Linked DNA regions of Homo sapiens. The protein of the gene in region 4 purifies or fractionates together with the protein of the main gene of each other region. This does not show direct contact. Each region holds a gene or a part of one and is shown on either strand. Other genes may lie near its edges.

The links. The genes of interacting proteins can lie anywhere in the genome.
Region 1: the proteins of TMEM59 (region 4) and GLT8D1 purify together in Homo sapiens (co-immunoprecipitation; 2 studies listed by BioGRID and IntAct, with this or other methods). This does not show direct contact.
Region 2: the proteins of TMEM59 (region 4) and LRRN2 purify together in Homo sapiens (co-immunoprecipitation; one large-scale study listed by IntAct). This does not show direct contact.
Region 3: the proteins of TMEM59 (region 4) and ZDHHC9 purify together in Homo sapiens (co-immunoprecipitation; 2 studies listed by BioGRID and IntAct, with this or other methods). This does not show direct contact.

What each region holds. Positions count from the first base shown.
Region 1 is NC_000003.12:52,695,792-52,699,508, reverse strand, and holds part of GLT8D1 (glycosyltransferase 8 domain-containing protein 1), read left to right. Parts: intron 1-1,574; coding exon 1,575-1,788; intron 1,789-2,849; coding exon 2,850-2,967; intron 2,968-3,190; coding exon 3,191-3,275; intron 3,276-3,468; coding exon 3,469-3,581; intron 3,582-3,717.
Region 2 is NC_000001.11:204,619,739-204,623,455, forward strand, and holds part of LRRN2 (leucine-rich repeat neuronal protein 2 precursor), read right to left. Parts: intron 2,385-3,717; exon of another isoform or gene 2,217-2,384; intron 2,102-2,216; exon of another isoform or gene 1,619-2,101; intron 1,476-1,618; exon of another isoform or gene 481-1,475; 5' UTR 255-480; coding exon 1-254.
Region 3 is NC_000023.11:129,833,887-129,837,603, forward strand, and holds part of ZDHHC9 (palmitoyltransferase ZDHHC9), read right to left. Parts: intron 1-3,717. UniProt on the Homo sapiens protein: Palmitoyltransferase that catalyzes the addition of palmitate onto various protein substrates, such as ADRB2, GSDMD, HRAS, NRAS and CGAS. The ZDHHC9-GOLGA7 complex is a palmitoyltransferase specific for HRAS and NRAS.
Region 4 is NC_000001.11:54,039,705-54,043,204, forward strand, and holds part of TMEM59 (transmembrane protein 59 isoform 2 precursor), read right to left. Parts: intron 2,102-3,500; coding exon 2,020-2,101; intron 1,137-2,019; coding exon of another isoform or gene 1,134-1,136; coding exon 1,052-1,133; intron 1-1,051.

The DNA.
Region 1 (3,717 bases), on a different chromosome or scaffold from region 4:
GTACAAGACCAGCCTGGCCAACATGGTGAAACCCCGTCTCTACTAAAAATACAAAAATTAGCTGGGCGTGGTGGTATGCGCCTGTAGTCCCAGCTACTCGGGAGGCTGAGGCAGGAGAATCGCTTGAACCCAGGAGGCGGAGGTTGCAGTGAGCCAAGATCACGCCACTGCACTCCAGCCTGGTGACAGAGTGAGTCTTCGTCTCAAGAAAAAAAAAAAGAGACAACAGTATTTAAGCTCCATGAAGGCAATTTGTGTACTGTTTTATCTTCTGTGCCTATGGATGATGGCTGATACTAGCTGTTCAATAAATATTAGTTGGTTGAATGATTTCATTTACAATTTTGGCTTAGTACCTTCCAGTTTTTTCCTACACATCTTTTTTTCTGTACAGTTGAGATTGTACTATATATAAACTGTACATGACATGTTTTTCTGTATATCATGTCACTGTGATGGTAGAAACTCTTCATACATAATCTTAATGTCTATTAATTTGTTTCCACAGGATAACATCTTTTGCTACAACAGCTTTCAGACTTTTTGATGGCAGCCCTACAATAGGAAATACATTACATGTAGCACATGTACATACATGTGTATTTGCTTATTGGCTGTCTATCCTCAGAAAGTTAGGGATGTTTTATTCATGGCTGTAACCCCAGTGCCTAGATATTGCCTGGCACATAGTAAATACCAGGGTTCAATGAGGAATAAAAAAAAAAAAATGAAAGGCAAGAATGCATACAGGACAGTAATTGCAGTTTCCTTGTGTGATACACTATGTTTTCTTTGGTATTCTAATTCAGTTTTCTTTTTTTTTTTTTGAGATGGAGTTTTCCTATTGCTGCCCAGGCTGGAGTGCAGTGGTACAGTCTTGGCTCACTGCAACCTCCACCTCCCGAGTTCAAGCGATTCTCCTGCCTCAGTCTCCCAAGTAGCTGGGATTACAGGTGTTCACCACTACACCTGGCTCATTTTGTATTTTTAGTAGAGATGAGGTTTCACCATGTTGGTCAGGCTGGTCTCAAATTCCTGACCTCAAGTGATCCACCCGCCTCAGCCTCCCAAAGTGCTGGGATTACAGGCGTGACCTACCATGCCCGGCCTCTATTTCAGTTTTCTATTGCAATCCAGAAACTTTTTCTGTATAAATTGATTGTGACTCACTCAATTGGTTTCATGCCTACTTGTGATTCGTGACTTGAAAAACATTGATTTAGTTTGCTGCTAAGTTTTCACAATTTAAATAAAATTCTTTCTTTTGATTATATTTCAGATTTTGTCCTTAGGAAACTCTTGATACAAATTGCCATAATACATTCTAACAGGTTCTGTTATTTTCCTACCAGTAGTGTACCAAAGTGCTGTCAGTGTATTTTAAAAAATGCTTCCTCCACTTTTCCAAAAGCTTATTTACATACAGGGAAAGTTTCAGGGCTATATGCTTCAGTTTAATGGGGGAGAATGAGGTAGATCAGTACCATAATCCTTACCTTCCCTTTTTCCATGTCTTGGACTCTATATCAAAAGCCCATGAGATTGTAATCACAGTGCCTTCCTTGTGTTTTCAGATTCAGGAATTGTAGGGCCTCAACCTATAGACTTTGTCCCAAATGCTCTCCGACATGCAGTAGATGGGAGACAAGAGGAGATTCCTGTGGTCATCGCTGCATCTGAAGACAGGCTTGGGGGGGCCATTGCAGCTATAAACAGCATTCAGCACAACACTCGCTCCAATGTGATTTTCTACATTGTTACTCTCAACAATACAGCAGACCATCTCCGGTGAGCTCTGCTTATGTGATTCTGCTTCTAGAGGATGATTTAGAGCAGGCCAGCTGCCAATCCAGGATCTGTTTTTCTGTGGTTTGTATGTTGTTTTATACAATTGAAATTGTACCAGTGATAAACTGTACAAATGACATATTTTTTTTAGGACTGTATTATGAGCATATCCCCATAATAGGAGAAGTGATACAAGGAGCTCATGCCAGGAAGTAAGTCAGCTGTCACTCTGAACTGTTAACCCCACCTGATGGTGTTTTGATAATAATACTTTCTCAGTGAAGGGAGCAGTAAATGTTGATTTACAAGTCACAAGTTCCTTATTTCATGGACATGCTCGGAGCAGTTCTGGTCTAGAGTGGGAAGGGACTTAGCAACAATGGCAAGGTAGTGTTGTGATGCTGATCACAGATCCTGATCCAAATCCTGGCCCAGAGTGATCTGGGGAAACTTGGATAGTCTAATCCATTTTGAAAATGAATAAGACTTATAAAACTTACTCCAAATTTGTTGGTCTAACAAATTAACCAGTTGTCAAATTTCTGAAACATTTTGGTCCTTGTGGCCCTCTGCATGGTTCATATTTAGTTTTTAAAGCTGTAAATTCTGAACGCATTTAAAATACAGAAACAGAAGCTGTATAAAAATAGACTACAGAAATAACACTAAGTAGCCACAAAACACTGATTTGAAACTGACCTAGAAAAAATGTGCAGTACTCCTTTAGCAAACAGTTTTTTCTTACAGGTAGTGCCTCAGACTTGAGTGGTGGAATTAGGGTCACCACAGTTAAGAGTTGGATAGTCCAGGTGGTGATGAAATGTTCTTAATTCTATAGTTTTTCTAGAGTAGTTTTAGTGTTAGAAGATAATTACCATACAATCTTAATTCAGGGAGGGACTTTGGTGGGAATTACCCTCACTTCAGACGAGGAAACCAAAGCTCAGAGATAAAAGGAGCTTGAAAACACCTATTTGGTCCATAGGGTTTCTTTTGCATTATTCCCTCATTGGTTTGGAGACATTATTTGAAACTAAAATGTAGTGTTTTATCTTCATCAGGTCCTGGCTCAACAGTGATTCCCTGAAAAGCATCAGATACAAAATTGTCAATTTTGACCCTAAACTTTTGGAAGGAAAAGTAAAGGAGGATCCTGACCAGGGGGAATCCATGAAACCTGTGAGTTCCATGCATCCTTCTTTGCACTTGGCAGTATTAGGAAATAATGGAATACCTGGGTATCTGTGGGTATAGTGCAAGTAGTTTCCTGGGGACCAAGCCTGGGTGGTTCTAAGAGTCCTTTCTTCTCCTGAATGGGTACTGAAAGCATCCTAGGAGTTTCTGTGTAAATAAAAGCACAGCTAGTGCGGTATCCTATGCCAATTATTCTTTCCTTTTCCAGTTAACCTTTGCAAGGTTCTACTTGCCAATTCTGGTTCCCAGCGCAAAGAAGGCCATATACATGGATGATGATGTAATTGTGCAAGGTATCAAAAATGTCACCATGAGTGCTGTTCTCCACCCAGATTGGGTACAATTGCTAAATAAAACAATGGGCTACAGTGGGCTGTAGTGGTTTATTTATGGTCTTCTATAAAAGGTCACCATAGGGAGAAGTGGGAGTAACAGGGAACTCTCAAGGCAACGGAAATGTAAATCTTAACATCTTGTCTATTTCAGGTGATATTCTTGCCCTTTACAATACAGCACTGAAGCCAGGACATGCAGCTGCATTTTCAGAAGATTGTGATTCAGCCTCTACTAAAGTTGTCATCCGTGGAGCAGGAAACCAGGTAAATTGCTTACCAAACACCCCTCTTCCTACAATATTGTTTAATGGGAAGAGGTTGCAAATTCAGGGAACTCTTTTGCTGCAATTTACACTCCCCAATCATTTCATCCCAAAACTCAAGCCTGCTTTTCTGTAGA
Region 2 (3,717 bases), about 150 Mb from region 4:
TCCACACGGACAATGCTGTTGCTCTGCAGGAGCAGGGTCTGTGTGCCTGCGGGGAGTGCCGGGGGGACTGCCGTCAGGAATAGGTCATTGCAGTCCACAGTGGTAGCCTCGCGGTAGGACGAGCGGGGCGTATACCAGGGCCGGATCTGGCAGGCACACTGAGGGGGGCAGGGAACATGCCAGGGTACCACGGGCACAGCGGCAGTGGCACCAGCCACCCAAGCTAGCAAGAGTGGGGCCACGAGAAGCCTCATGGTGGAGCTGCAGGGCAGGGGACCATTCACAAGAAGAGTCTGGAGTCCTGCTCTTTGTGTTTTGCAGGGTAAGGGTCAGCAACCCTGCCAGGGCCCAAGGAACCACCCTCCCAGGGCAGTCATTCTACACCGGGCGTCACTTCTTGCCCTCCTCAATATGCCTTCTCTTCCTTGTCCTCTGGGGCTGGGCCTGCTCAGTCATTGCCAGGCCCCATCAGGGGCAGCCCTGGAAGAAGAGGATGCAGAGTTAAGGAGGTTGCAGAGAAGCAGTATCTACCCCTCCTCCCGTGTTTGTTTGTTTGAGACAGAGTCTCATTCTGTCACCCAGGCTGGAGTGCAGCGGTGCACTCAGCTGACTGCATCCTCCGCCTCCTGGATTCAAGCGATTCTCCTGGCTCAGCCACCTGAGTAGCTGGGATTACAGGCACCTGCCACCACTCCTGGCTAATTTTTGTATTTTTAGTAGAGATGGGGGTTTCTCCATGTTGGCCAGGCTGGTCTCGAACTCCTGACCTCAAGTGATCTGCTCACCTCGGTCTCCCAAAATGCTGGGATTACAGGTGTGAGTCACCGTGCCTGGCCCCTCCCATGTTTTTTGACTCAACAAGCCAAAGGAGCTGCAGAGGTAATGGCCAGGCCTGTCCTTAAGGCTTTAGTGTCCTTTTCTATGACCTGCTCACAGAGTGAGTGACTGTGAGTCTTCAGTGAAGGAGAGGAAGGTGTATGTGTGTGTATGTGTGTGTGTACATGCACATGTGTGTTTGGGAGGGAAGGAGAGTGGATGGGCTGAAATTATTGTTATCTTCAGAGTCCTTCTGAGCCCAGAGAGATGTGAGGTAGGTTCTCTAACCTTTCTTACCTCTTTCCTCCCAGCCTCCTTGGCTCACTGGGTAAATGGAAGATAAAATGATAAGTTTCCAGAAGTTCCTCTGGCAGTGTAGGTGGGAGGTGGGTGAGGGTTGGTGGAAATAAGTACAGCTTCTAAAATCTGGGATGGGCTCCCCAGGACCCTAGAGGTGAAAGGCAGCAGACCTGACACATCCAGGCAGGCTGGGGTGTTCTGCTGCCCAGGATCTTCTGGGTGGGGATATTGCTTTGGTGTTTGCCAACTTCCCCACCCTGGAGGCAGGAGTGTTTCTCCTTTCCCAACAGCCTGGCAGTGTTGCCCAGGAGGAGGCAGTGGAGTTAAGAAGCCTGGGTCTGAGCTCCTCAGCTGTGCAGGTAAGACCTTCTGTGACCTGGCCCGGCCCCTTCACCTGGCTTCTCTTGTCACCACCCCACTTACCCGCTGCACACAAACCTTTTGGGTTGAGGTTACCGTGACATGCCACCCCTTCTGATGTCTCCTCCTCATTGTCTTCCAGACAACTCCTACTTGTTCTTCAACGCTCAACTTTAAGTTCAGTCACCACCTGCAGAAGTCTTCTCCAAAACCTCCCCACCTGGCTGACTAAGGGGCTGGCTTTATGCTCTTGCAGTACTCATGCTTCCTACTGTCACAGTTCTGACCACACCGTGGGAAAACGTCTCTAACTAGAGACCTGTCTTGCCTCTTGTGCCTGTAGTACGGGATGGGTGCCCAGTGTGTGTTGATTGTATGAATCAATCTCTGTGACTCCAGAGTTCCTTTCTTCAGGAGATTAGACATCACCCCTGCAATCAACAATGCAAGCCACTGCTGTTTCCTCCATCCTGAGCATGAGGAACCTATCCAGTTTCTCTCTCAGATGCCAGGGCCATGAGGCAAGTCCAGCCTTGGCCTAGAACCAAAGATGGAAACAAAAAGGGGCCAGACTGTGTTGCCTTCTTGAGCCTGGTCTGACTCCTGAGTGGAAGTCTGATTCCAGGTAAGTTTTTAGCTACAAGTGTCAAGGAAATGCACAAACACTTACTGAGCACCTACCATTGCTCAGGACTCTTTGAAGACTCTGAATGTCTTTTTTCATATGACTCTCATAACAGGTACATGAGATAAGCACTAATACCTCCAGTTTGCAGATTAAGAGACTGAGGTCCTGAAGAGGTTAAAGAACTTGGCTCAAGTCACATAGCTGGTGAGCAGCAAGATACAAGAATCAACCCAAGTCCAGGGGGCTGTGTGCCGTTTACACTTCACATCTGTGCTGCCAGGTCTGTCTGATCTGACCCTGCCCTGGGCCTCTGGAGGGTCTGGGATGCACTGAATGCTGCAGCTGCAGGCCCTGTGCCTGTTCTCGTCCCCTGGGGTGATGACTCCTTACCAGGCAGCTGCAGAAAGCTTGGAGCTATGTCTCCTGCCACCATCCAGGCAGGTGCCTCTCAGCGGGCCAGAGGGGCTCTTCACCTCCCTCATCCTGCTTCCAGGATGCTAGGGCTTGGGAGGGGAGCAGCTGGAGGCAGGGTCCCGTTCCCTGAGCAGGAACACAGCAAGCCTATTTACATTTGGCTACTTCCCACTTTCCTCTGCAGCTATTTCTGAAGGTGGGAAAAACAACCGCGACTTCAAAGGCACAGAGGTTTTGATAGGGGTGTGTGTGCACCGACACGTAAAACTCAGTGTGAACAAACACATGTGTACACATGCATGCATGCCTGCATACCTGTGCAAGGGGAACCCAGCTACCCAAGCCAGTGTATGGGGGTCAGGAAGCAGGGAGGGAATTTTGTGGTGGTCTAGGTGGGTGGAAAGGAAGGAGGGAACAAGCTGAGTCTCCGAGAGGTCCCTGTTGTGGAACTGGATCTATGGCCAGTAATCCTGCCACACTTACATACCAGAGACCCCTGACTGCCACCTAGACCTGCTGTGAGAGAGCAGACCTACCGGCAAATAGATCAGGACCCAAATCGCGGCCCTACCACTCACTACCCAAGTACCTGAGGCAAAGCTACTTGACTGCTCTGAGCAACCATTTCCTTCTGTATTACATGAGATTGTCATTGGAGTTAAATGAGTGTGTTGCACACAGAAAGAACTGGACAAATGTTAGCTCTCTTCCAGCTCCAGTCATCCCTCAGGGTCAGGAGGTTCTCCAGCTATAGGACTTCTTAGGGGACAATAGAAGTTGGCTCCTAGGACTCCTAGGGCTCGATAAGTTAGCAAGTGCCATGCTAGTTGGGGAGGCAGGTTCAAAAACACGAAACAACTAGGAGAGCCCAAGACATTTCCCAAGTGGAGAGAAGGGTGAGGGCTGGAGGAGGTGGAGAGGGGTCTTCAGCTGGGCCCCAGCATCTCCCTGACCTTTAGACCCTACCCGAGTCCAGTTTCCCTTCTTCATCAACACTTGGTTCTAAGCGCTGAGTCCGTGCTCAACTGCACTGAGGGGATCAAGGAACCATTTAAAACTTCATTGAAACCCTCCAGGCACTTGCCTTTCCCCTTCACCCCAGACTGCTGCCCCTTCCTTCCCTCCCCTGGTTGGGCTGGGTGGATGAGGCAGAGGTCGTGGCTCCTGGGCCGGGAGCCTGGGGCTGGGCCTCGGGATCC
Region 3 (3,717 bases), on a different chromosome or scaffold from region 4:
GGTCACACATGGGAGAAATAAGCCTTTGCTATAATACCTCCCTGATATGGATGGCCATCTGTCCTCTTACTACCTACCTGCTACTTACTGAATGTCTGTATCCCTGCAAAATTCATATGTTGAAATCTTAACATCCAATGTGATGGATTTTGGAGGTGGGGCCTTTGGGGGGTGATTAGGTCACCTAAGGCTCCACCCTCATGAATGGGATTAGCATCCTTATAAAAGAAATCCTGGCAAGCTCCCTTGCCCCTTTGGCAAGGGAGAGAAGACAGCCATCTATGAACCAGAAAGCAGGCCTTCATCAGTCACCAAACCTGCAGGCATCTTGATCTTGTACTTGCCAGCCTCCAGAACTATGAGACACAAATTTCTGTTGTTTATAAGCCACCCAGTCGATGGTAGTTTCTTACAGCAGCCAGAACAGACTAAGACACTACCTCTAGAAGACAATAAACATGTAGAACCACCCATTAAGACTGTTTCAAGATTCTTCTGATGACCCTCAGAGTCTGCTGAGAGGGGAAGTTTCCCTTAACACTAAAAACATAATTTACAATCAGCCTCCAGATTTACTTCTATGTGAAGGTCAGAGAAAAATGCACAACCCTCTTTTGCTCCAGTAGCAATAAAGAAAATTAACCAAACAGGGACACTTTCAATTCTGAAGTGAGAAGCCATCCTCTCATCAAAATCTCTATCCAGGTAAACCCGCTCAGTAGTTTCCAAATTTCAGTTATAATAACAAAGTTCAAATTTCAGTTACAATATACCCCTGCTCGAGAACTTAGAACCATTCACTGCTGCCTATTATATTATGCCCCAAACTCCACAGGTCAGTATTCCAAGGCTCTCCATTAACTGGCCTTATCTAATCATCATCATAGGGGCCCTGTCTTCCCCACTCCATTCCAGAAACATCCCACTAATTAATTACCCTGAATTAGCTAGCTTCTTGCTACTGCAAATAGCCTAAGGTACCTCCTTTGTTCTTAAGCACAATACCAGCACCAGCATCTCTGAGGAGAAAGATTTAGGAGTCTCTTCTTTCCCTCAATAACATCTCAACTGATGTCAGCATGTTGGGGAACATCCCTGTTCTCTGGGCTTGCTTTTCCCAAAACAGAGGATCACTATATTTAATTAAGACTCATCCTCAAAAGATGGGAGAGGCATTCAGTGGAGACTGAAAATGTGAAACTCATTACCACAAAAGGAAATAGAGGCTGAAAATGTAGAGAAATTCTGAATGACAGAACCATAAAGAATTATTAAAGGAGCCAGGCATGGTGGCTTACACCTGTAATCCCAGCACTTTGGGAGGCCAAGGCTGTTGGATCACTTGAGCTCAGGAGTTCAAGACCAGCCTGGGCAAGATGGTGAGATCCTGTCTCTACAAAAAATACAAAACTTAGTCAGGCATAGTGGCTCACTCCTGTAGTCCCAGATACTTGGGAGGCTGAGGTGGGAGGACTGTTTAAGCCCAGGAGGCAGAGGATGCAGTGAGCCAAGATCACACCACTGCACTCCAGCCTAGGCAAGAGAGGGAGACCCTATCTCAAAAAAAAAAAAAAAAAGAGGAAAAAAAAGAATTATTAAAAGAAAGCAAACTGCCGCCAGGTGCAGTAGCTCACGCCTGTAATCCCAGCACTTTGGGAGGCAGAGGCGGGCGGATCACCTGAAGTCAGGAGTTCGAGACCAGCCTGGCCAACACGGAGAAACTCTGTCTCTACTAAAAAATACAAAATTAGCAAGGCGTGGTGGCGCATGCCTGTAATCCCAGCTACTCAGGAGGCTGAGGCAGGAGAATCGCTTGAACCCGGGAGGCGGAGGTTGCAGTGAGCCGAGATTGTGCCATTGCACTCCAGCCTGGGCAACAAGAATGAAACTCCGTCTCAAAGAAAAAAAAAGAAAAAGAAAAGAAAAAGAAAGCAAACTGTTCAGGAGATACAACCCAAGGAACTCTTGGGAAGAACTCTCTCTCAAGGAACATACTTCATCAGGAAGTTAAGTTTAGCTAAGTACTGTAACAGATTGATACCAAAGAGGCAACTATGCCTTTCTAAAACTCATTTGGTTAGTCAAGTCACAGACAGAATCCGAAGCTAGATAAAGCCAAGACTGACCTCCATAGAGTCATTCCCCAGAGAATGCACTCTTGGTTACAGAGCACAATATAGTCACTTTTTCCTCTTCCCAATCTCACATAAGGATGCTCTTCAGGAACCTGGACCTTGTCACTGTGGGCACTAACATTCTGGTATGTCAAAGTTTGGCTTTGGTCTACATAGTCTTGTGTCTCCTCAAACCTAGTAAGTTCATATTATCAGGTCTGCTTTTTCTATTTCACCTGTCTGCCAGACACACCTCCTCTTTCTTTTTTCTATTTTATTTATTTATTTATTTATTTAGATGGAGTTTTGTTCTTGTTTTGTTGCCCAGGCTGGAGTGCAATGGCACAATCTCGGCTCACTGCAACCTCCGCCTCCCAAGTTCAAGTGATTCTCCTGCCTCAGCCTCCCAAGTAGCTGGGAATACAGGTGTGCACCACCAAGCCCAGCTGACTTTTTGTACTTTTAGTAGAGACAGGGTTTCACCATGTTGGCCCGGCTGGTCTCGAACTCCTGACCTCAAGTGATCCACCTGCCTCAGCATCCCAAAGTGCTGGGATTACAGGCATGAGCCACTGCGCCCAGCCCACACTGCCCCTTTCATCAGGATAAGTCACTAAGTAACAATGTACAGAGCACACATTGCTTGATTTTTCTCCAAGCCATCCTCATCTTGGCAGCAGGGACCAGGAGTGGCCACAGCAGTGATGATCCCTTGTTAACTCACAAAGCTCCTGATAGGCTTCCCTGTTCCTGCAAGGCTACCAGAAATGCCATGCTGCAATACCATCAGTTCTCTGCAAAGATGCCTTCATTTTCTAGGAGCATAAGCTTGGGAGACCCAAAGAGCCTAGATGCCACTGGGTAACACACACACTAGCTCGCAAGAATCTGGAATATGCTGGCCTAGTATTTGGTACTATGTACACTTTACTAAAGCATGTGTGTTTGAATATCTTCAGGATTCCATAGCCAAAGGGTAACAATGAACAATGAGATAAAATGTCGAAATTAGAAGAAAAAGCCCTGAGTCAGTATAGAGACGTTGGCTGGTCAACTCATCTTGATAAAGGAAACTCACTTCTGTGGGCCTGGTTTCCTCACCCCACACAAGGAGGGAGATAGTCTCCAAAGCCCTTTCCAGATCTACCATCCTATGATTCTGTGGGTCAAGATTGTTAAATTTTAAGTACATCTAGAATGTTTTAATTCAGCAACACTTATTGGCCATCTACTCTATGTAAGGCATGGTAGAGAGCACTGTGGGGGCTACACAGCCATTGAACATAGTCTCTGACCTTGAAAGAGACTAGCTGCGGGGGACAACAACAGTGAGAAGTGTAATCACCATATAGCTCCAAACTATAAGAAATGTCATGTGATTATCTGTTGAATGAGCGGTGTGTACAATTAGCCCAATGAATGCAGAAATTACTGGAAAGTTTTCATGAAGAAAGACTCAAGAAAGAATTTGAAAGAGGGGTAGAATTTGGATAGGCTAGAAAAGTATTGTTTGTATTGATTACTATTGATTACTAAGCAGTGTTACAAAGCTGTTTTCAGTTCATCCAATTCAATGACTCTTCTGCCAATATATACATCAAAA
Region 4 (3,500 bases):
CACTATAAAGCAGAAACTTGTTTACCACTCACTGAAATGCTTGACCTGGTATCTGACACCGAGTAGGTGATAGTCAATAAGTGGTATGGCCCACTATCTTTCTCTTTTTCCTTTTTTTGTTGGGGGTGGGGAGGAGTAAAATGTGGGGGAGGGACCATATCTGAACTCCTTGGAGAAGAGGAAACATGCACACTTTCATAAAACCTGCCTCTCACCCTCATAAGGCTTGATATTTTTTCCTAGGAGGGCATATGGTACCCCTACTCTCACTTGCCCACTTTACCATTACCCTTAAAAACTCTTGGCATAGAGCTGATATTCCTTAGTATAGAATACAAAGCCCTTCTTAATCTAGAGTCTTTATCCAGCTCTTCTAGCGTCAAATCTGGCCATGCAGATAAAAACAAAAACAAAAATCTGATCCCTAAACCATTCAAACATACTTATTTTATTTATTTTATTTTTTGAGACAGAGTCTCACTCTGTTACCTAGGCTGGAGTGCTGTGGCGTGATCTCAGCTCACTGCAACCTCTGCCTTCCAGGTTCAAACGATTCTCCTGCCTCATCCTCCTAAGTAGCTGGGATTACAGGCATGCACCACCACGCCCGGCTAATTTTTGTATTTTCAGTAGAGATGGGGTGTCGCCATGTTGGCCAGGCTGGTCTCGAACTCCTGACCTCAGGCGATCCACCCGCCTTGGCCTCCTAAAGTGCTGGGATTACAGGCATGAGCCACTGTGCCCGGCCTCAGACATATGTTAAATTAAAGCTTAATTTAAATGTGTGGAGAAGCACATTCAACATAAATCAAGAGATTCTAACAAGAAAAATGCTCTTGTACTGTGAAAAAAACTACCTGCCTGGGTTTTATTCAAGTAGTATGCCTACAACCTTTTAAACAAACTAAAATATCTAATGTACAACTTTGGAAAGGAACAAGTAAAAAGGTTTACTTTTGAGGTGCTAATTTTAAAATAATAAAAAGTAATATATCTCTCTGATACAAGCCAGATTTTATCTGTTATACACATAATAAAGAGGAATACATACAGAGAGAGGCATCTTAAAAAGCCATCACTTTCTCCATCTTCAAGAAAATTCCTGTGCGCTTGTGAATTTCTCATTTGCAGATCTGCTGAAATAGTAAGTATGAGTTTATTATATCCTATATTCCAAAAGCTAGTCTCACATGACTACTTCTAGATATATACACTTTACAGATATCCAATTGTTTTTGTTTGTGTCATCTGATACATTTTATAATGTGTACCAGTTTCTCTAGCACATCAAAACCAAATGAATATTCTATCACATTATGAGTTTCCTGTTTTATTTTCAAATTCTTATTGACATTGATGCTTTCTGCTTAATTACATGTGAGCTTGGATTTGGTTTATTCTAATCTAATTAAAGTTAAAGATGGTCTTATGTTATGTGCTATCATTATCTACCCACTCCCACCCACCAAAATAATTAGAAGGCTAATTAAATCAGTATCTAAAATAAGGTATGAGGAAATTTCACAAGGTGAGTTCTGCTTTAGCTTGATGTTTTATGTTCTTATAAGTCAAAATTCACTTCTAACATGGAAATAAAAATAGAATGGGGACTCTCACTTTTGGCATTTTTCATTATTTGATCAATTTATTGGGAAATACCAGAATATTTGATTAGTTCATGCTCAAAACATCCTTTGAAGCAAACTAAATGTTTTTAGAATAGTGATTTTCAAAGTGTGGCCCCCAGGCCAGCAGCATCAGCAAAATCTGGAACTTGTGAGAAATACAAATTCTCAGATCTTCTCCCAGACCTAGTAAATTAGAAACTCTGGAGGTAGGGCCCAGCAATCTGTGTTTGAACAAGCTCTCCAAACTGTAATACACATGAAAGTTTGAGAACCACTGTTTTAGAAATTATCTGTTTATGTTCCATCAGTGTAAAAACAAACATGACCAACTCTACTACAACCAGATTTGACTGCTAATGTTTTTATCTAAGCTACTTAAAATAAAACTTACAGGACATTTTGCTTAGAGATGATTCTCTCAAATTTGTAGGCTCCTGCTCCAAATGTGGTGCGTACTGGATTTCTGGCTTAGACTAAAATAATAATGAAAGCAATTAAGTCATTTGTACTTCTTTAGCTTTTTTCAGTAACAAGTTCTAAAACAAATCATCTCTTTAAACATTTAAATTGAGAAAAAGTAGCAGAAATACTGTATAAAAAATAAAACACATTAACCACAATATATTTTAATTGCACTTCCTAAACATCAGAGCCAGTGCCTTGCAAAGAAACAGATTTCTGGCAGATTTATGTTAGTTTAACTTCCTGACAACGTTTTGTTTTGTTTTTTTTTTTTTTTAAAGGGAGAGAGGGACAAATCATGACATACTACATTAAATACTATACCTTGCAGAAATGAGTTCTAATTCTAGTTGATCAGGAATAATTTATCAGACTGCCAAAACTTTTGGCTAAATACACATTATCTCTATTTATTCTCATATGAAACATTATATTCTTCCCTAAGTATGAGGAATCCATAAATTACAGCCAAACACTCCATACTTTTTACATCTTGTGTATAGTTCTGATCCTCTAGAATGGGGGTTTCTGCATCCCAGTTATGCTCAAATTCACACAGACTTTAGAGAGACACAGAGCTAATCTCCTATCTAATGAGGAATGAATGAGGGCTTCACTCTGAGAGTCAACTTATGCCTTGAGGTAAGTAGCTTTAGGACCTAGAACTTGTTCATGAATTTAAAGAGAAAATTCCTGTGTTTTACTTATTACCAAATTAAGTAGAGGGGACCCAAGGTTCAGGGGAGTGCTAAAAATCACATACCAGCCATACATTAAGCCACTTACTTAGCTACAGTACTTAAAAGGTTTACTTTATTACCTGAGAGGAAGACAGTGCCACAACATAAACTCTGTTGACTGGTAAATTTGAGGAATTCAACTACTGAATTAAAAGCATGGTAGGGTAGTATATGGGCCTTGGTGCTAAAGTGCCCTGGGTTTGAAGCTTAATTCTGTTACTTATTGGCCGTGAAACTGCAACAAGTTACTCTCACCTTCCTCATAATAAAACAGGAATAATACAACCTCATAAAGTTGTTTGAAGATGTGAGAGAATATATCTAGCACAATATAACCTCCAGGGAATAACAGTTATTATCATGTGGTAAACGATGAGATAGGAGACATTACTTCTCTAGGCAAAATACTTCTTCAACAAGTTCTCTTATTAGAGTCATGAGTAAAAGCACTGTAAAAAACTAAAAATTATGTCATATTGCTTTTATCTGATATCCATATGTAATCATATATGGCCACTATTTATGTTCGAAGTATATTAATTATTGTCTCTCATATTTAAAAATTTCATTTTATCAATTTAACCACCATAAAATTTAAAAGACTCAAGAGTTCTGGTTACATAAAAACTAATGGGCTTTAGATTAGGCTTCTAACGGGCAAAGGGAAGGG